2 separate regions of the Homo sapiens genome follow, and region 1 is linked to region 2. A link means that fine-mapping ties the variant in region 2 to the expression of a gene that starts in the linked region. Tissue or cell type: esophagus muscle. Region 2 holds a variant in brackets; the other region holds the start of a gene. All regions are shown on one strand. Distances are from middle to middle.

Region 1 (10,397 bases), 27 kb before region 2:
CCTGCAATACCAACACTTTCAGAGGTCAAGGCAAGAGGGTCGCTTGAGATCAGGAGTTCAAGACCCACAAGGGCAACAAGCAAAACCCTCATCTCTACAAAAAAATAAAAAAACTAAGAAAGTTAGTCAGGTGTGGTCCCAGCTACTAAGGAGGCTGAGGCTTCAATGAGGTATGATCATGCCACTGCACTCTAGCCTGGGTGACAGAGTGAGACCCCAACTCTAAAGTAAAAATGAAAATAAAAAATGTTCTGGAAAACTCTTTAGTAAAGAACCTTGTTTAACTTTTTTAACCCAATTTTCCTCAAATTTCTTGAGTTTTGGTCCCTTTCCCCTAAATACTGCTAATTAGCCTGGCAGAAAAACAGTATCCTGTGGTACAAGGATTCCCTAACCCCCAGGGCCTGGCCTGTTAGGAATCAGGCTGCACAGCAGGAGGTGAGCAATGGCCAAACAAGCATTACTGCCTGAGCTCTACCTCCTGTCAGATCAGCGGCGGCATTAGATTCTCATAGGAGCATGAACCCATCATGAACTGCACATGCAAGGGATCTAAGTTGCATGCTCCTTATGAGAACATAATGCCTGATGATCTGAGATGAAAGAATTTCAACATGAAACCAGCCACCCACACCATCCGTGGAAAAACTGTCTTCCACAAAACCAGTCCCTGGTGCCAAAAAGGTTGGGGAAAGCTGCTGTAGCACACACTTTAATTAATTCGACACTGATTTTAAACAATCAAATCTTGTTTCTTTGTTGATTTATATCATCATTTCAGAAAACTTTCTCACTTTCCTTGTGTTGCCTCTGTCTAATATTTTAGCTTGAAGTTTAATTGCTAAACCAAGTTTTCAGTAAGAGGCCTTCCCTAAAAGAAAAATGATGTTAGGTAAATTATGTAACAAAATGCAGTTTCTCTACAAAGAGGAATAACGTGATTCTACTACACTACTTCTTTGTGCACTCATTCATTTGTTCATTCACTCATTTGACTTGTTTATTCCTAGAAGTACGATGATAAAGGCTGTCAATGCAAAGGAGAAAAATTCACTATGACTATAATGAGTCCTGTGACAGAGATAAGAATAGAAAAGCCCTATTTCTCTCCTAACTGGGAAGGGATGAGGGAAGTTGGCAGGTTAAATAAAGTTCACAGCAAGGCTGATAGTAGAGATGAAGAATTTTGGTTGCAAGTGAGAGAGACTCAACTCCAACTAGACTAAGCAGGAGGGGAGTGTGTTAGCTCATTACTTAGGAAGTCCAAGGGTAGAGCTGGCCTCAGGCATGACCAGTTCCATGAAGTCAAAGGACATTAACAAGACTGCTTGCCCCCATCTATTTCTCATCTCTACTTTCCTCTAGTTGTTGCCAGCACAAACAGGCTTTTTCCATGAGACAAGAAGGACAGCAGCCCCTAATTCATTCACATCCTTCCAGCAACATGACCAAAAAGGCAAGGCCCCTTCTCCAACTCTCTCTCTCCATCAGCCTTAGAGTAGGATTCTCATGCCCCAGACCAATCATCACATTCCAATTACCAGCCCAGCTTCCTATCATCCTGCAGCTTCAAACTCCTGCTGAGGCCCACAAGAACCCCAGGGCTGTGTGGGAGGTGGCACAGATGATCGCAGCTCTGATTTTACATTATGTAGACAGTGAAATGGAGATGAAAATTCTAAACAAGCAATAAAGAATTTGCATGAAATTTTGGAGTGTAACTTTCATGGACTGTCTTTTTTATTCTCCTTATTTTGTTTTGTTTAGTTTTTTTACCCCAGGTAAAAAGGTGAACAGCTCAGAGATGTAACTGTATTTTTCTCTTCTTAAGCAATTTTTTCTTCCTCTGCCTACATTCACCTTTTCTTCCAAGGGAAAGGTAAAACCACTGCTTTTAAGTGAGAAGAAATACCAGTTATTATACTAACAGGGTATGTGTTCAATAATCAAAAAACCTTGCCTATTCTACTTAAGGTTTTAAAAATTACTTTGCTAATCCCATTACTGGGAATACCCAAAGGATTATGAATCGTTCTACTATAAAGACACATGCACATGTATGTTTATTGCAGCACTATTTACAAGAGCAAAGACTTGGAACCAACCCAAATGCCCATCAATGATAGACTGGATAAAGAAAATGTGGCTCATATACACCATGGAATACTATGCAGCCATAAAAAAGAGTTTATGTCCTTTGCAGGGACATGGATGAAGCTGGAAGCCATCATTCTCAGCAAGCTAACACAGGAACAGAAAACCAAACACCACATGTTCTCACTCATAAGTGGGAGTTGAACAATGAAAACACATGGACACAGGGAGGGGAACATCACACACTGGGGCCTGTTGGGGGATGGGGGGCAAGGGGAGGGAGAGCATTAGGACAAATACCTAATGCATGCGGGGTTTAAAACCTAGATGGCGGGTTGATAGGTGCAGCAAACCACCATGGCCCAGGTATGTCCATGTAACAAACCTGCACGTTCTGCACATGTATCCCAGAACTTAAAGTAAAAATTTTTTTAAAAATTACTTTGCTAATGTCTTTCAACTCCAATGTGTTAATGTAACTTCAGATGCTATTGAGTTTTGACCTAGGGTGGCATAAAGAAAATAGATTCCATGATTTTGCAACATGGCTCATTCCATAAATAAATAAATAAATTTCAGCAATATAACCAATTAAATAATTTTAGACATTTAAACACAGGTATACAGAATATACTATTTCTATGCTTATACATATCAAGGTTTCTTTTAAGATGCATCAAAATTATTAGGCTTCACTCAAAGTCCTTAATAAAGATTCTTGAGCTTTGTTTTCTTCAGGCAAATTTAATTCTAGGATTACCATTTTTGTATTCCTCAAATTGTGCTCTAGGACTACATGCATCAAAATTACACGAGAAAGCTTGTTAAAATGCAGATTATTGGACCCCACTCTATATCTATGGAATCAGAATCTCATAGGGAAAGTTCTAGGAATCTTCGTATTTAAAGCTTTGCAAATGGTATTTCTGCACCCTAAAATATGAGAAGCTCCATTCTAAAACTTTGGAGAGTTTTAATTGCAATTTCTGAGTTACGGTGTCAGTATGTTTTTCTATCTCTAAAGTAGGATAAAATATTTGTGAATTCTGTGAACTTTATTTTGTCATTAAAATGTAATCAGCAATCTTTGTGGGTCATGTTGGTTTGAAGTTCTCTGACAAAGTAGCTATAAGCATAGTTAATGAAACAAAGTCCTTTGGATTTAAAAATACTCACTCATAATGAGTATTAATGAATAAGATAGGTAAATTCCATTGTAACAAACTTTTGTGATTATAACAAATGAATCAATATGATTTTATTATAATAGTTACATTGCAAGAACTGATGTGATAATTAAGATCCAACTGAAATTAATCTAGATAGTAAAATTTTATGAAAACTCATTACAGTTGTTAGCTTTCTTCCAAACGAACAACCTCAACTCCTCATAAACAGGATTTTATTTCCAATCCAAGACAAGTTATAAGAAGTCAATATATACAATCCAATTCCTCCCACTAGCAATTCTGTAGGAGCTGCTTAGAAAGTCCTTGCATCTTTAGAGCCAGAAGAGCCTTAGGGATAGTGAACTTCAACCCTTCTTCTTACAGATGAAGAGACTGAAGGGCAAATCTCATGATTGACAGCAGAAACAGAAGGAAAATCCTAGTGTTCTGATTGCCTAGTCCTCCTACTGGAGTACAGAATTAAATGATTCTTCTGGAATATCCATTGTTTTCAAAGATTCAGGGGTGGGTGGGAGCAAACTTTTTTTATATATAACAGGTACACTACAGGGTTAAAAAAAGAAAAAAGTCACATAAAACATGAGACTTGAAAGAAAAGCCATTCAGGCACCTTGAGTTATTCATTCTTTCTCTCCTTCCATTCAAGATACATGGTGAAAACTTTTAAAAATCCCAGTGCCTACCCCAACTTCCCTACCAAAATCTGACAAAACTAAAAGAGAACAGAGAACATGACACCCAAAGTCGTCATGTATAATTACTTTTTACATATCCAGATAGATCCAGCGTGGTTGAGAATAAAGCAAGTGAGGGTATCAAGCTCTTCTCAGATAGTTTACTGAGCATCTACTACAAATCTGGGCCTCACTTATTCACTCTATTATTCAACAGACACATATGGAACACCTACTAGGAGCTAGAAGCTATGACATGCTCTGTTGATATTGAGATGAATAGAGAGGGGAAAGCAAAATTAAACCCACAATTACAGTGTGTTAGATTACCTGCTGTAGAACCAGGTGTTATGGCCACAACTACTCAACTAGGATGACTCAGAGAAGAATCAAAGTGGAAATGACATTGGGCTGAGTCTTGAAGGACAACTGGGAGTTTATCTAATGGAATAATGGAAAAAGAAGAGAAAATAGTGGGGACAGCCCATGCAGAGGTATTAAAGGGTGAGGAGTCATCTATAAGCAGTTGAAGAGAGGATCCAGAGAAGACAATATTATAGACATGAGCATTGTTTTTGTGCCATCTAGCACAATGTGGCCAAAGCCAAACAAGTTTTTAAAATAATAATAATCTACCCTCCTTGAGCAACAGACTGTAGAATGGTGAATGAAGGAGCCCATCCTTGAGAACTGGCTTCAGAGTGAAAGAAATCTATTCTTATATTTCCTCTCTTCAAAGCCTTAAATGCCTTCCCAGCTTTCAAAGTCCACCTCTTCCAGCAAAACTGCTAGGATTTCCAGAATCCAAACAGAATCCTTGGAAGGAAGAAATGATCAAATCAAAGAGGGGATATTATGGATCCCCATGATTACCGTAAAATTTTGTCTCCTAAGTTCTTTGGTATGTAGATCATAGCAGCTTTTTGCATTGGTGAGAGGTGGTAGGTGATAGACATGAGTTCCAGGTTTCACTACTTTAAAACCGTGTGACTTCAGGGAAGCCACATACCTCTTGGGACATTTTTCTCATCGCAAACACCCTGCTAGTTCAATGTGGAGCTTAAACATGATGTGAGGCAGAGCACCTGTTACAAGGTCTAGCCTATCCTGGGCCTTCTATGGGGCAGCTGCTACCAGTATTAGGCAGTTTCATTCATTCATTCAACAAATCTTTACTGAGGACTTACCATGTAGAAGCCAGAAGGAATACAAAAATAAATCTGAATTGGATTTTGCTCTCAAGGACCTCCCAATCTATAGAAGAGATACAGGACCAAGCCAAATAGCTATACCATAAATAAGAAAGCATTTACCACCAAGAGAAATTACTGGGGTAGTTGGGAGGATGGGCAAAGATTACTTGTAGAGTGGAGGGATTTGGTGAAAGAGAAGGGGAAAGGATTAGGGGTTGAGGATAAAAGAGAGGAAAAATGTCTGAGCCAGGCACTCTTACGCCTTCTGATGTGGGTATAGCGAGTATCCATCGGACCCTTTCACAAATGAAATAAAAGGGGTTCCGGGAAGCGTCACAACTCACTCAATTCAGAACTCCCCACCTCTAATCCAAAACATTTGCCATTAAATCTCTTTACCTCCTATAGCTAGGGCCATTTGCAGATGGTAGGGGACAAGACAGGGGAAAGTAGCAGGAAGGAGGTTATTGGGTCACTGGGCACTGTCGCAGGTCAAGGCAGAGCAGACTCAGCGGGGTGCGCGGTAAGAGGGGGAGGGCAGGGGCGGGCCGGCAGGGAAGGGTGTGTGGAAGGGCAGCCAAGGGGCGGGGAGAGGGGTGCGGGCCGCACTCAGAGGCCGTCCAAGACACTGGCAAGCCGCAGAAGCCCAGTTCGCCGGCCATGAAGCAGCGGTTCTCGGCGCTGCAGCTGCTGAAGCTGCTGCTGCTGCTGCAGCCGCCGCTGCCACGAGCGCTGCGCGAGGCGCTCTGCCCTGAGCCCTGCAACTGCGTGCCCGACGGCGCCCTGCGCTGCCCCGGCCCCACGGCCGGTCTCACTCGACTGTGAGTACACAGCGCTCCCGTCGCGGCGCCCTTGATGCAGGACCCTCCATCGCTCTATGCCACCTTCCCTCCCTACTCCTTTGGCCCCCTTTCCCTGGAAGCTTGGAGAAAAACGCTTTGCCCTATCAAATTTCCCCCACGTTTTAGGGTGATGAGAACCCAAAACTTGGTGGTTGTTTTTACCACCCCATGCCTCTGAGAGCCCCAGCCCCATTCTTTACCCCTGGTTGGGGCTGTGGCCGGGGGAGTAGAACTATTCAGGAACCTCAGGGGAAGGCCTGCTCTCTGCCGCTGCTTGAAGGGAATATGGGTGTGACGCTCCTCAACTCCTCTGGCAGGGGTCTCTGCCAGAGAAGTCTTACAGGCCTTTGAGCCTTGGGCCAGCCACGTCAGGGAAGGTGAATGTGAGCTCTGGCACCCTGTGGTCCTCTAGGAATGGAGTGCTCAGGCCCTATGGCCAAGGGTGACCTAATCTGTCAACTGACTGCTGGCAGTCACACGGGCATCTTAGTGAGCACACAAGCCGCTGCTCCACCGTGCCCAGATGTGCTTGAACTTCAGTCTCATGGTCTAATGGACCAAAGGCCCTGTGCCCTGCCGCTGGCACCCGCGCACCACCTCCACACTCACAGGCCTGATTGAGGGATTGTATACATCAGCAACCTGGGGGAGGGCGTTGTTTCTGGAGTAATGGGGTAAAGAGGAGAAGGGGAGCCTTTAGTACTAGACTATCAGGGTGTCATCAGGTCTCCTTTCTCCTATTTAGAAAAAAAAGTACCACATATTTTATAATACTATTTACATGAAATGTCCAGATAAACTGAAAGTAGATTAGTAGTTACCAGGGCTGGGGAAGCGGATGGGAGGGACAGTAGGTGACTACTAATCAGTGGGTATGGGCTTGGGGCGGGGGGGTGGTGAAATTTTTGTAAAATTAGATTGTAGAGACAGTTGCGTGTGAACATATTAAAAACAATTGCATTGTCCACTTTAAATTCTATAGTGTAGGATTTACATCTCAATACAGCTGTGAAAAGAGAAAAGGAAAGAAAAGAAAGGGAAAAAAAGACAAAAGACAAGAGTATCTAAAAGGCTGGTAGAGGTCTTGATCATGTCCTAACAATTAGAGATGATGGAATTCTGTGCTGGGGAAGGAAGGAGACCACCCCCTCTGCCATTTCCTTTGAGCCCCCAACAGTCTGTCACGGGCTGTTTCATAGAGGAGACTCACCCTCCCTGCCAGGCCAGGCTTCTTCATGTGGAAAAGTTAAAGGCCTTCTGGGAATAATTGTGGTTGAGAGATACAGTTAAAGGGTTGAGGGGTTTATATTAATTAGTTTCCATTAATTATCTTGTCAGGTCCATTCCCTGAAGGAATGGACCATGCTGATAGAATTTGTTTCAATCAATCCACAAATCCATGCAACAGGCCTTCCAAGTTCCAGCCCTGGTCCGTCCCTGACAAGCATGCCATGTTGCTCTTAAGAATGACTGTACTACTAACAGACTTTCTCACTTGCCTGCTACTTATCATACAGATTAGAAGAAACTGAGATCCAAGGAGAAGGAATAACTTGCTCAAGGTCTCACAGCTATTGAATAGCAATTCAGGATTTTATCTATTAATTATCTTTTTAAATTTGCTCATCTTTGTAAGAAAAACTACTGCTTTCTTAATAAAACACACACACACACACACACACACTCAGTTTCTCCAAAATTAGTACTGAGCAAAGAACTCCCACTGGGGGCATGAATGGGTGGGCCAAGTCCCAGTTCCTTTTCAATTCAGCTTTTCAGTAAGATCTCTCAAGGGCTCCTGCTGCCACGTGCTGTTCTCAGGAGGGGACCCCCTTCCCTGGAAAAGGCTGAAGTAAATTTTTTTTAAAAATCCCACTTTCTCCTGCTGCCTTTCAGCAGGGTTTCAAGAATCCTAGAACCCCTCAAAAATATCTGATAGGGCTGACTAGGTTTGGGGGTAGAGACCCTGAGCATCCACCACCAGGAACATCCTCTGCCAGTCATTTAGCCTCCTTAGCCAAGCGTGGTGACCCTCACAAGGTTTCATTTCCTGAGCACCAGATGGTTGAGAGATGCCCTCATCTTTCAAGAGATGCCCTTGTCACTCTGTGGAGGTTGAGCCTATGCAGGCCAAAACAGGGTAACTTTTGGCACAACATAGTGACACCAACATCCATATGACAAGAGAGGTGCATGTTAAGCAAAGGGAGGGTTGTTACTTCAAGGCAATATTTCTCAAAGTATGGTCTTAGCTCAGCAGTATGAACATCACCTGGGAAATGTTAGACTGCATATTCTCAGGCCTCAGCCCCAACCTACTGAATCAGAAACTCCAGGGGTGGGGTCCAGCAGGCTACAGATTAACAAGCTCCTCAGGTGATTCTGATGCATACTAAAGTTTGAGAACCAAGGCACAGCTCTCCAGGGAGGTATCATCTTAGAGAGGAAAAAGTATATTTTAAAAGTCCTTGTGCCATACACTTCCCTTCCCCACCCCCCCCCCCCCCCGCCAAAATCCGGCATAACACCTATTTATTGCAAAAAGGCATAAAATCAAAATCCTAAACCCAGAGGCAGACGGAAAATAAGCAGAATTGAGGGAAGTTTTTTTTTTCCTCAAAGAGGACTGCAGGAAGGAATCCATGGAGGACAGACTGAAGATACAGGGAATGAGGGAGGAATGTTAATTGTCAGATCTCAATGGGGGTAGGAGGAGAGCATCAGTCTAACAACATGGGGGAAAGATTAACCTTAGAAAGAATAAGAAGTTTTGAGTCCTGAGGTAAGAAGACCTATGGGTAAAGGAATAACTCAATATTAAGACAAAGGACAGGAAAAGTGGACAGGTTCATACTGAAATCCTCTTTTCTTGATGATGAATGCATGAAATGATAAACAGTAATTATGAGACAGAAAACTGCTATGATGGCAAGTTATCAGTTCATAAAAAAAAAAAAAAAGAAAGCTTAAATTATGAGGTAAGTCTTCCAGGAGGAGAGGATGTGGTCTTGCACTACATTATCATAGACTTTGCCTCTGCAGAGAGAAGGGGAGCACTCCAAGTTCTCAGGGTTGGAGGAGGCAAGTACTGCAGAGCACCTTAGGATTCAGCATTAGTCCCTCAATAGATGTTAATTTATGCTTTAGTCATTTGGGGTCCTAGTAACCTTACCTTCTAAGACCTCCATCCAAAGTTCACTATTTGGTTTAAGAAGAAGAAAAAAAACAAGGTACATGGATTATAGCTGCTTATCACTGACAAGCCTGCTGCTTACAAATTTTGAAAATGGCATCGTTCAAATTTTTCCTCCCCTTTCATATTTTATGAAAAACATAGGTATTTAAAATCTAAAATGTGATACAAAATATAACCTCCCACATTTCACTCACTTTAATTGGGGAAAAAATGAAAGAAAAAACTGATTTAAAAAATTTCCTTTCCTTTCTTATTAGTTCTAGGCAACTGGAAAGAGGAGAAAAAAATCTCACCTTGCCCATGGCTATATAAAGATCTTTGTCTCTATGACAACAGAAAGGTTGATCTGCTTGATATGGAAACAGCTTTTGAAAAATCTGTTAGTAAGAAAATGCTAATAATAATTATGGCAATTTATTTTTTGCATGTTGTACCTACTGAACAGAAATTAAACTTTTAGATTTTGTTGAAGACATAATCCAGAGGCCTTGGCAAGATATTGGCTTGGTACAAAAGTAATTGCCATTACTTTCAATGGCAAAAACCATGATTACTTTTGCACCAACCTAATGCAATGTTCATATCGATCCAGCATTACTCTTTCCTGACACCTTTCTTGAGTGTCTTCCTCTTCCTCTCACTTGCAGTGTAAATCAGGGTCCAAAACAGTGTTCAGTGCCGTAGTGTCTTTGAGAAGCCCACAATGTAAGTGGAAACACACCCCCAAGAGACTGGTATAGGTGTAGAGAGAAAGACAACAAGGCTCTAAGGAATTCACAGAATGAATTAATCACTATGAACTGAAGTCTCCAAGGGAAGGCTTCATGGGCCAAGTGTTAAGAAGCTGAACTGTGAAGAAGGAAAGAGGGGTCCTGGTGGAAGAACCACAGGTTAAAATCAACTAGAGATTCGTTGCTGAGAAGCAAGGAAGAAGGTTGAATAAATTCTTCCCAGGCTGGGGGGGAAATATTTCTTAAGAGAAGACATAAAGTTATTAGAGAGCTTTGATTACTCAGACGTTGTGCAAAAAGAAAAAAAAATCCCAATATGTAGTTATTGACTAATAAGCTTTCAATTAAAGCCATTATTTGATGATTGGTTGCAAAGGCATTAAGTAAAAACCATGATTAGGAGTCACTTCCCCATGAAGCCTTCCCTGATGCCCACTGCCCCACCCCCACTCCACCTCCATCTTCCCCATCCACATA
Region 2 (10,397 bases):
CCACCCTGCAAGTTCAACCTCATATTTTCCCAGTAACCCTAATTCTTTACCACCCATCTGAGGTGCATAGTTGTGGTGTATCACCCTCTTTTGCTGAGACAGAAAGGGCTCTGTCCTTCCTTTATTTTCTTTGCTTTATGCATAGCTTTCATTCCTTTTTTGACCCTGGACAGCAGAGCTGCTGAACTGTCCTTGCCTTAGGCATTTTTGCCCTCAGTTCTCCTTGGCTTCTGCTCTATATCAAATGATACCGACTAGACCTTTCCACAATAGTTCACAAAACTATTGGAATACAAGTATGCCTAACTCCAAAAAAATATGAAGGAAAGGAAAGGAAGGAGGGAAGAAGGGAGAGAGGAGGAAGGAGGAGGAAGAAAGGTAAGCAAGCAGGCTGCCAATACATCAAAATAAACCTTTTTTATTTTCCATTTGTCTCTCTAGTACAGAGGGTTAAGTTGGTCATATTTCTTCATTCAAGTAACATTATCACTAGTCCATTCAAAGTCCCTCTCTGTTTTTAGTTATTTATTTTATCTCCTTCTCCCACTTCTGTTCCTCTCAACTCACCTTAGATAACAATCCTAGTGTATGTTCATGTGCAGGAGGAGGTTAATGTCTAGTGTTTCGTTTACATATATTTTAATTCTGCAAACAGTATATTATATCTCCGTAATTTCTTGTTTCTCTCAGTTCCATGATTTGAAGATCCACCCATGCTACTCTGTGTGCCTTTAGACTCTCACTTCTACAGGCTCTCCTATTCAGTTAGGTGTGTACGGTCCAAATTTTACATACTCCCTCACCTAGTAATGGACACCCAGGTTGCCTCCAAGCCCCTGATGCCACAATGCTGTGAAGAAAACGTTTGTACAAGATTCCTTTAAGTATCAATTTGAGAATTTTTCTCAATGTATACAGGAGTGGAATTGCAGGGTTATTAAGATCATTGTTCACATTGCTAAAAGTTTCTGGCATCATGGAAAGAATCATAGATGCATCCAATAGAGAGTGGGACACCTTCAAAGGGAGTACATTCAAACAGTTATCAACAAATCATAAACTTTATTAATAAATTCTGGAGACAGATACTTGAATGCTTAGGAACTGCTACCCATCAAAGACGAATCAGAAATGAAGATGTGACATTTCTGAAAAAAAAAACATATAAGTCTGTAGGGAAAATGGTTTTCGATTCACAGGACCACATTCTCTGTGTTGCCTCATGGGAACACATCTGTTGTGAAAAGCACAGTGCACCTGCCTAACCCCACCTCTCTCCCCATTCCCTGGCCCCCAGGACTCTTTCTTGACCCAGCCATATCCACAAAGTCACCTGCTGTTCACTTGGTGTCTCTTTTATAGGGGAGGCTCTAGTTTCACTCTCCCCACTGCTGCCTTTCCTGCTCTGCAGCATCAACATCAACGCTGCAAAATTTCAGCTTGCACCAGGGCTGCTTCTGTAGCCACTGGAGACTGCCATTGCATGATCTACAGCTTCTTGCACTTCTGTCCGACCTTTGCTCCTCATCCCTCCTCCCTACATCAATCAAAAGCTCAGGCAACCTCCCTGATCAAATCTGAACCAAACTGCTCCTCTGGGAGTCACACCATGCTCCCATTTGGAGGAGGAGGCTGCCTGCTGAGAGACTTCAGCTTCTGGGCTCCATTTGCATGAATAAACAGCTCTGAAGTGTTCTGCTGAAGCTTTTATGTAAACACTCTCCAAAATATGTTCTGCACTGCATTATCCCCAGCAATAAAGATTCTGGAATCAGAATTTGGCTGTCAGTTTTATTGATGCTGCAAGGGGTACAGTGGAATACAGCTTTCTCTTCTGTAAATTTATTGGTTTGGCAGTGCAGAGAGCAATAAAACTGTGTTTTTAATCAGGAAGCCAAGCGAACATGATTCCAGAAGAAATATAGGAAGCAAATATGCCATCACAAGAAGATTTCTTCCCACACTGTCCCTGTTCTTCTCGGATCCTTTGTTAAATGAGTTTAGGTGTTAAACGATGTCCTTCTTGGGAATGCCTTCGGGAATAGAATCAGAGACCAAAGTTGGATTACTTTCTCTAGGTTATATCATTTCTAAGAGATTATTGAGTGAAAATATTTTTCTGAAATGAAATTTCCTCCCTATTAGCACCTAGGGAGGAACGGCTGGTAAACCGCTTTGCAGAAGAAATAGAGCGAATGTGACATGCTTCCTCTCAGGAGAAGCAAGGTTGCAATGTCTGTCCCTCCACCTTGCTCACCAAGACATGGGATTAAGAGTGACATGCTTTGGCCAGTATTGCACAGGGAAAGGATGTCTGGAGTCATTCTGCCTCGTTGTAACCTTGTTCAGGTTACTTAGTCTCTTTGTGACCCAATTTCTTCTGCTATGTAAGAGAAATTCCCACCTCACACCATTGTTGAGTGAGTAAAAGAAGGTCACAAATGGGTGTGTATAACTCACATAGTAGCTTACAACTGTAGCAAGTCCCTTCTGGGACTGTAAGAAATCTTACTTTCATCTGCCCATCATGGAGGTGTTCTTTCCTAGAAGCTTAAAGCAGTCTCTGCTGCATAGACATGTTAAAAACAAGACAGCATCTTTCACCTTTGTTCTCATATTCCTGATACTCACATACTCACTTCCCACCTGAAATATCCTTGCCCACTCCCTTCCTCTCTGCCAGTCCTTGGGCCAAAACATTAAACCATTGTAGATACTCAATAAATGTTGGCTGCATGTTCGTCCCTGCCTTGCAGTTGCTTTCTCCTGAGTTATCTTAACCTCCAGTTCCTTTAGCATTCACACATCATCCTATACTGGTTTTGCATTTCTGAGTGTCACTCTTTTCTCAAATCTTAAGTACAGCATAGATTTTATTTCAATTTCAAGAATATTTAGATTTTTCCTGTGGGTATAAGTGAATGCCTGAAGGAAATGATCTCATAGACATTCCCCGCAAATGACATGAGATGCCCATGTGAGTTAACCATAGGATCAAAGTTGTCTCTTTGGAATAATATTGAAATAGGCTACCTGGGAAAGACAGTAGAGATCAAGATGGGAGCATGTTCTTAATGAATCTTCTGTTTTCCTGCCTGCATGATTTCCAGTTGTATTTTCATCATTAATGTCTCCACTCTACTCAACATAGTTTTTGTCCATCTTCCCAATCAAGTCTATAGGATCACTCTACAACTATTTAACTATATACTTGGTGCCAAGCCCTGTTCTTTACATGGATTATCCTGATTAATTATCACAATGACCCTGTGAAGTAGGAATTATTATTGCAATTTTACAGACAAAGAAACTGAGCTGGAGGGCTTAAATAACATGCTTAGAATCACATAGCCAAGTAGTGGGACAGCGAAGATTTGCGTCCAGGTATGCCTAATCTCAACGTTCACAGTCTTAACCGCAAAATTATACACTCTTTGATAAAGACCAAGAATAAGTCATGGCACATCTCTTCATTGATTTAAGTTAGAATCCTCAGCCTGAATCCAGTTCTTGGGAACTCTGAAGTCTCTGTCTCTCACACACATACACATACCCATTTTATTCATGAACTTAAAAGGCACCCTATCATAAATCTTAAACTCTTGGATTTCCTTTTTTCTTTTCTAGATCACTTGCCTACCTCCCTGTCAAAGTGATCCCATCTCAAGCTTTCAGAGGACTTAATGAGGTCATAAAAATGTAAGTAAGTTACTGCATATCAAAAGACATTCGTAATTGGAATAATGAATTTTTTCTAAGAGAAAACACATTTGAAAGGGGATAATTTTTCTAGGAAAGAAATTGTGTTTAGGATACTCACATATTTTTATCTTTGTAATACAAATAATAACTAGAGACCTTTGAAGAAAAGGTATGATTTTTAAGAGTCATTAAAATACAGATAATTAACCTTGCTTCAAATGACTGAATGCATTTTATAAGTGATGATATACCTTTTAAGGAGAAAAAAAGATAGATTCCAATCATAAAAATTCTCCTTCTGCTAGAGCAGCTATTCCCTTGTGTCACATTTTTAGATAACACCCACATAGGAAAAAAAATGTGTTGGAAATTTATTGTGCATCAGAAGATAATCTTTATATCTAAAATATAAGTATATGACAAAAACACAGTATTTATAACTATATTGATGAAAGGCATTTATCAAAAGTGTAAAGCACCTGGATAATGCAGTATGATCTCATGTTTGTCAGACATAACTTCGATCATTTGTTTCTGGGTTTCAGCTTCTAGGACCAAAGTTCCCATACTTGGAGAGAGAATGTTCTCAAGGGCCCAGTATTCCAGCATCTTTCTTAATATTAGCCTGAGTCAAAGGACCTCATGGCCATTGAGTTCTCACAGTGCATCTCCAATCTTAACAATCCACTGGACTTTGGAAGCAGATTTGCATCTCTAAAGAAGATGCTACAGCATTGATCTTAGCTCCTTTGGGAACCTCTATTGCCCTTTAGGGTATTAGTAAGCAATTAGAATATTTAAAATAATTCCTCAAGAATTACTGCATATTATAGGAAATTCCCTGCAGGTTACGGACTTGTCGGTTTACTTGAGCTTAACCCACACTCTTCTGCTCTCAAGTTGGAATGTTGAGTTTTGATAACCTTTAATGCATTAAGACCTCCTACTGAGAAAAGGAGCTACAGTTAAATAAGCAAACCAATAGGTAGGAATAAGATGAATCAGCCAAGAATAATCCATTCCTGTGTTGTTAAGAAAAGACATTAGCTACCTTAGGCTCTGCCTTTCTGTGGGCTAATGCTCTCATCAGTCTGAAGCCTTCAGTGAGCCTTAACCTTAGAAATAAGCAAATGTACAGTTTGTGAATTTGAGACTTTTTTTTCAACTGGCAGGAAATGGTAGCGTATGTTGGGATTTTAGGGTAACATTGGCATGACTTACATGCTTGCGAATCATATATGACAAAACTGGTTTCTTTATTTTTGTATTGTTTTCAAAAAATTCAATTATTCACTACTGCATTCACTTATTCATTCATTTTGTACTCTTAACGCTGTGCCAAGCAACATGAAGCCACCAAGGATTCAGAAGTGAATAGAATATACTCTTTGTCCTCAGTTTGCTCACAAGTGAGAAAAACAGTCAAGGAAGTAGGTAATTGTAATTCAGGATGGATACCATGTGCAGGAGTTGACCACCTTGCAACGGCCTCAGCACGAGATTTTGGGAAACTAAGGGTTAAGAGTTATGAAACAATTCAATCCATATTAAAGCCTCACTAGAGTGACAGAATTGGGACCCAGAGATCCATATCCTAGTCTTGAACCTTAATACAAATACTATTTGCCTCTCCTCTCAGGGCCTTAATTTCCAGAGCTGTAAAACAAGGGAATCTGACTAGATTTTCTCAAAGGGCCTATGCAATTCTAACAATCTGTGGCTCTGAGTCAGAGATAAATAAGAGAAAAACTTGTCACATAAACAGGGGCTACTAAAACTTGCATTTCAACTGCACTTGGGTTGTAGGTGCCCATCAGTGCTCCTAAAGGGAGATGTTAGCACTGTATGATTTGGGGACAACTTGCACATCTTTGTTCTTTTCAGGGGGACACAGTGGTGTCCCCAGTTGTTGGGTCACACACATAGCTCATAATCATGCAGACACGGTCATTTCTTTCATGTTTCTTTCTCTTTTTCCCCCTCCTCTCTTCCCTAGTGAAATCTCTCAGATTGATTCCCTGGAAAGGATAGAAGCTAATGCCTTTGACAACCTCCTCAATTTGTCTGAAATGTAAGCATCAGCTAACAGACAGTTTACTGCTGTACACTATTACCCTCACTGGCTGGAGCCCACTTGGTATTTGTATTCAAGCATCCACTGCTAGGAATCCAAAAGGAAAAGACTACAGCAATTACTAGGTCTGGGCAGGCACTAATTTTTCTCACTGCAGTGGCCTGTAGGTTGCTATGGTGACAACTGCTTCTCCCTGGGAGCTGTATAAACTCTGAAACATCACAACACAAAGATAGAAATTAAAATTGACATTATGAACTCCTGCCAAGTAGCTCTTGCCTATGGAGGGTATGGAGTACTTGGGATAGTGGGAAAATTTGGAAAAGAGCTTAGAGATCATAAATTGGTTCATTGGGGGCTGTTTTGGCACATTCACTCATTCAGTGAATGTTTCTTGAATACCTACAGTGTAAAAGCTGTGTGATAGGCATGTGTGTGTTGGGTTTGTTGGGTTTTGTTGTTGTTATTGTGATGTTTTGGAATTAACTCTTAGAAACAACCCTTGCCAAAGTATCATTTCCCCAAAAAATCACAAAAAGGATAGGAAAAGACTGGTTCAATTCAGTTTTCAAGTGATGAATCTGTGGCCTGAAGAGGTTAACCTATTTGCCTGACATCACACCGCAAGTTAGTGCCAGAGCTGAAATTAGAAATCAATGCATGTGACTTCTACACCAGGCCCCCTACTGCTGCTTTTACTCAGGCGCAAACCTGAGTTTCCAGAAGAGCACTCAAACTTTACCTACTTTGGAGTTTCAAAAGTTAGGGAAGGGGAAAAGTATTAGCATCAAACATTTTTTGAGCTCTGTGCTTGGCATTTCTTCTATGTTGTGTCATTTAATCCTCACAGCTACCATGCAGAGTGGGGGTAATTATCCCTTTCGTCCAGGGGAAGGAATGGAGGCTTGGAAAGGCACAGAAACTTGACCGATGTGACACTTCAGACCAGGGGTATCCAATCTTTTGGCTTCCCTAGGCCACACTGGAAAAAGAATTGTCTTGGGTCACACATAAAATACACTTACACTAACAATAGCTGATGAGTTTAAAAAAAAAAAAAAACTCATAATGTTTTAAGAAAGTTTACAAACTTCTATTGGGTCGCATTCAAAGCCATCCTGGGCCACATGTGGCATGCAGACTGTGGGTTGGACAAGCTTGCTTTAGACCATGGCAGGACTGGGGTTCAATCCCAGACTGTCTTTCTTCAAAGCTCCAGATTTTCCACTATACCACAGGGTCCCCCTATAAATGACCCAATGAATAATTACCTGAAGAGAATAATTAATTGGTAAGTACGTGAGCAACTACCATGTGTCCAATACAGGGCCAAATGCTGTTGGAATACAGAAGAGATAAAATATAAATGTCCACCATGAGATG[A/G]CAGTGTAGCCAGGGAAGTGAGACTACTCACCAATTACAGAGAAATCCAAAATAATGAGTAAGTGCAAAAGACATAGTCTGGACTTAGCTGAGAAGCAGAATCACACATTGGGCTCATTACAATTACAGACGACAGTCCTATCCCAGACCTGGAAAGCTGCAGTTTTAACAGACTTCCCAGGTAATGCTAAAACACAGCTTATATTGAGAACCACCAGGGCAGCTAATGATAAATAAAGCTTCCCGTGATGCAAAGCAACATTCATCAACAGAAAGAAACATAAAGCACTCTCAGGGAAAGTTTATGGATTCCCAAAGAAGGTCCTAAGACTAGCATGCTAGCTCCATGAAGGCTTTTTTTGCTTTGTTCACAGCTGTATTCCCAGCACATAGAACGATGCTTGCCACATGTAGGTGCCCAATAAATGTTTGTTAAATGAATGAATGACTGGGCTAAGGTCAGGCCCCAAAATTCTTTTATTAAATTTCTTTTAATCTTTTTTTTTTTATACAGGGTCTCACTGTGTTGCCCAGACCGACCTCAAATTCCTGGGCTCAAGTGATCCTCCCACCTCCTTGCCAAGTAGATGGGACTACAGATGCACGCCACCACACCCAGCCCAAAAGACCTTTAGAGATAAAAGTCCCTTCCATCCCACCCACATAAGGCTCTATATGGCCTATGATTGTTTGACTCAGTTGTTGTAGAAATAATTACAACAAAATATCACTCACATCTGAAGAATCAAAAGGGCTGAGAAGATGGAAACAGGCACAAGTGGTGGGTAACTGTAGTGTGGTGGAACAAGCACTAAACTGAGGGTCAGAAAAACTGGGTCACATCCAAGTTCTGCTACTTCTCAGCTGTGTGACCGAAGACAAATCATTCAACTTCCTAATTTCAGCAACTATTATAACTATTGTTAACACTGGTTGAGGCCTTACTGTGAACCAGACACATATATTTATTCCTCAAAAACAACACTATAAGGAAACCAAGACACAGAGAACTTAAAGTGATATATCTAAGGTCATACGATTAGTAAAATCAGAATGAAAAACCAAGTTGACTCCAGAGCCCATGCTCCTAACCAATATACTACATTCTCTCTATAGAACAAGGTAATTATTATTTCCTCAGGTGGCTGTCACCTGGATTAAGAAACCCAAAGGCATTTACTGGCCTTTTATTTAATACAAAGTAGACAGGACTTAGCAATGGTGACTACTTTTTGTAGAGTCACAGTAATTAGGGGAATGAGGGAGTTGGGCGGGGAGGGCAATAACATCACAGTGGTGTATGGCTGTACTTTTATACTTTGCCAAACCCTGCCTCATATTATCTCTACCTGTTCTATTACTTAAAACCTACTAACCTGTGAGGCAGGAAGACTATGTAATATTATTATACAAATTTTACAGAAGAGACACTAGCTCAGGGAAGTTAGGAGGCTGGACATCATGACACAGCAAATTATCTTCAGCATGAGTATAAAATCCCCCAAATTCAAGCCTCTGGCTTTTGCCCTGTGCCATTCCACAGACTGGTGCCCCTCGGTATAACTGCTCATGTGATTGCCGGCCAATATGAAGAGGACGAGTTTGCTTACAAGGGAGAGTAGGTAATTTGCTCATCTCTCCTGAGAGGAGTCTCTCATCACCCTCAGTGTACAGGGTCCACAGTGGGGCAGAATCTGCTTGGCCAGGAGCCCTGGATGTCGGTGCTGTCTGTGGTGGGGGAGAGGGGTGGGAGGGTGCAGAGACAGACTCCCTGCTCTGATCCTTATACCCACCTCTTTAGAAGCTTGAGAGCAGTGCTTCCTGGAAATAGGGAACTGGCTCTCACCAAGCCATTTCCATCCCCAGAGTCGCTAGGGGTCCTCCCAAGCATATGAAGGTCGCCTGCTTTTGCTGATGCCATTTTCAGCCAGCAACTTCTGGTGACCATGATCTCACACATTTCAAACAATACACATCTATTAAACAGCAGCTTTTTTTTTCCCTCTCTCTTTACAGACTGATCCAGAACACCAAAAATCTGAGATACATTGAGCCCGGAGCATTTATAAATCTTCCCCGATTAAAATACTTGTGAGAAATTTTCCTTTTTAAGCAATTGGGGAGGGGAAGATGGGCATCTGATGAAAATCAAAACAAGGAAAAGGTTGGAAAGATTTTGTTTAACCATATACATGGCACTATTTGCATGTTCCTCTTCAGCCTTCTGATTTAAATTTAATTGTCATTTCTTGTCAGCCACCGAGCTGGGTGCTTTTACATACATGTAAGTGGTTCCCAACATTTTATCAGTCCTAAACACCTGGGAAGAACGTCACCCCTCTGTAGTGATTTTCAAGGTTGACAATGGGTATGGGAGATGGAGGTCATAACACTTTAAAAAGGGTAAATCAGAATCTCTGAAGTGAATAGAGAGTAGGTGAAAGTGAGAGTGGCAATTCTGGTCTGACTCTCATCACGGGTTAAGAGTTTCTGATCTCCTTTATCTCATTTTTTTCATTTGTTCATTAAATGAAAACTTTTTAAGTATTGCCTTAAGGTAGACACTGTGCCATATAAACTAAATCATTATTTTCCACTTCCCATTAATTCTAACTAAGTCTGTCAGTTAGCATTAGAAATTGAGTACCACTGTAGCCTGCCACAATCATTGCCTTGTCAGCAATACCAAAATTCCTGAAAACTATGAATTTATCACTATGGATCTTTTCACATATCAAGTCATCCCTATTCACAAAGAAAAATTTGCGTCTCCCTAAAACAGACATCCCTCTTTTTTCTTTAAATTTCATAAACTCCTCAGAGAATGTAAAGCCCACCTCCCATCACTGCCCAAAAAAAGGAAAACAGAGAGAAGGGACATCTCTCTGGTACTTCACGTCATCAGTCTTGCTCTGGGGCCTTCTATAAGAGCTGCTACTGGAACTGGCATAGCTCCTTTGTTAACTCTAACACTGAACAATTCCAAACTCAGGTGTTCTGTTTTTCCAAACCTCCAGGGTGTCTATAGGGCACATAAGCATACGGTAGCATCAACTACTTTGAAAAAACATAAGAAACTCCCAGAACCAAATTTGACCACTGCAGCCTCTTATTATCTAAGAATCATTGTCTTTATTAAATAGTATTTTCATCCAAAACTGTGATATTCACCCAACCCAAGTACACGTTGCAGTCTAATCCCACACTGCTATCCCCAGCTGTAGACAGAGCAGAGATC

Direction of the effects. Alleles are on the strand shown, and positions count from the first base shown. SD is a standard deviation of normalised expression in the study named.
With allele A in place of G in region 2, the expression in esophagus muscle of the gene that starts at base 5,759 in region 1 is higher (large effect, 0.77 SD a copy in GTEx).

What was found. PIP is the estimated chance that this variant, and not a neighbour inherited with it, causes the effect.
Region 1: it holds the start of LHCGR, and the variant in region 2 is fine-mapped to the expression of LHCGR in esophagus muscle (GTEx, PIP above 0.99). The same link has a PIP of 0.9 or more in esophagus mucosa, gastroesophageal junction and thyroid.

What each region holds. Positions count from the first base shown.
Region 1 is chr2:48,751,086-48,761,482 of GRCh38, reverse strand. LHCGR (luteinizing hormone/choriogonadotropin receptor) reads left to right here and starts at 5,759. Exons shown (of 11, transcript NM_000233.4): 1 at 5,759-5,972. The coding sequence starts at 5,812. The region is part of intron 10 of STON1-GTF2A1L (STON1-GTF2A1L readthrough); the gene reads right to left. RefSeq lists an enhancer at 5,425-6,201.
Region 2 is chr2:48,724,529-48,734,925 of GRCh38, reverse strand. The region is part of intron 10 of STON1-GTF2A1L (STON1-GTF2A1L readthrough); the gene reads right to left. It overlaps LHCGR (luteinizing hormone/choriogonadotropin receptor), which reads left to right. Exons shown (of 11, transcript NM_000233.4): 2 at 3,628-3,699; 3 at 5,699-5,773; 4 at 9,176-9,250. Among named protein-coding and RNA genes, the nearest start is that of LHCGR, 26 kb to the left of the region's middle. The variant A/G (reference allele first, on the strand shown) is at 7,160.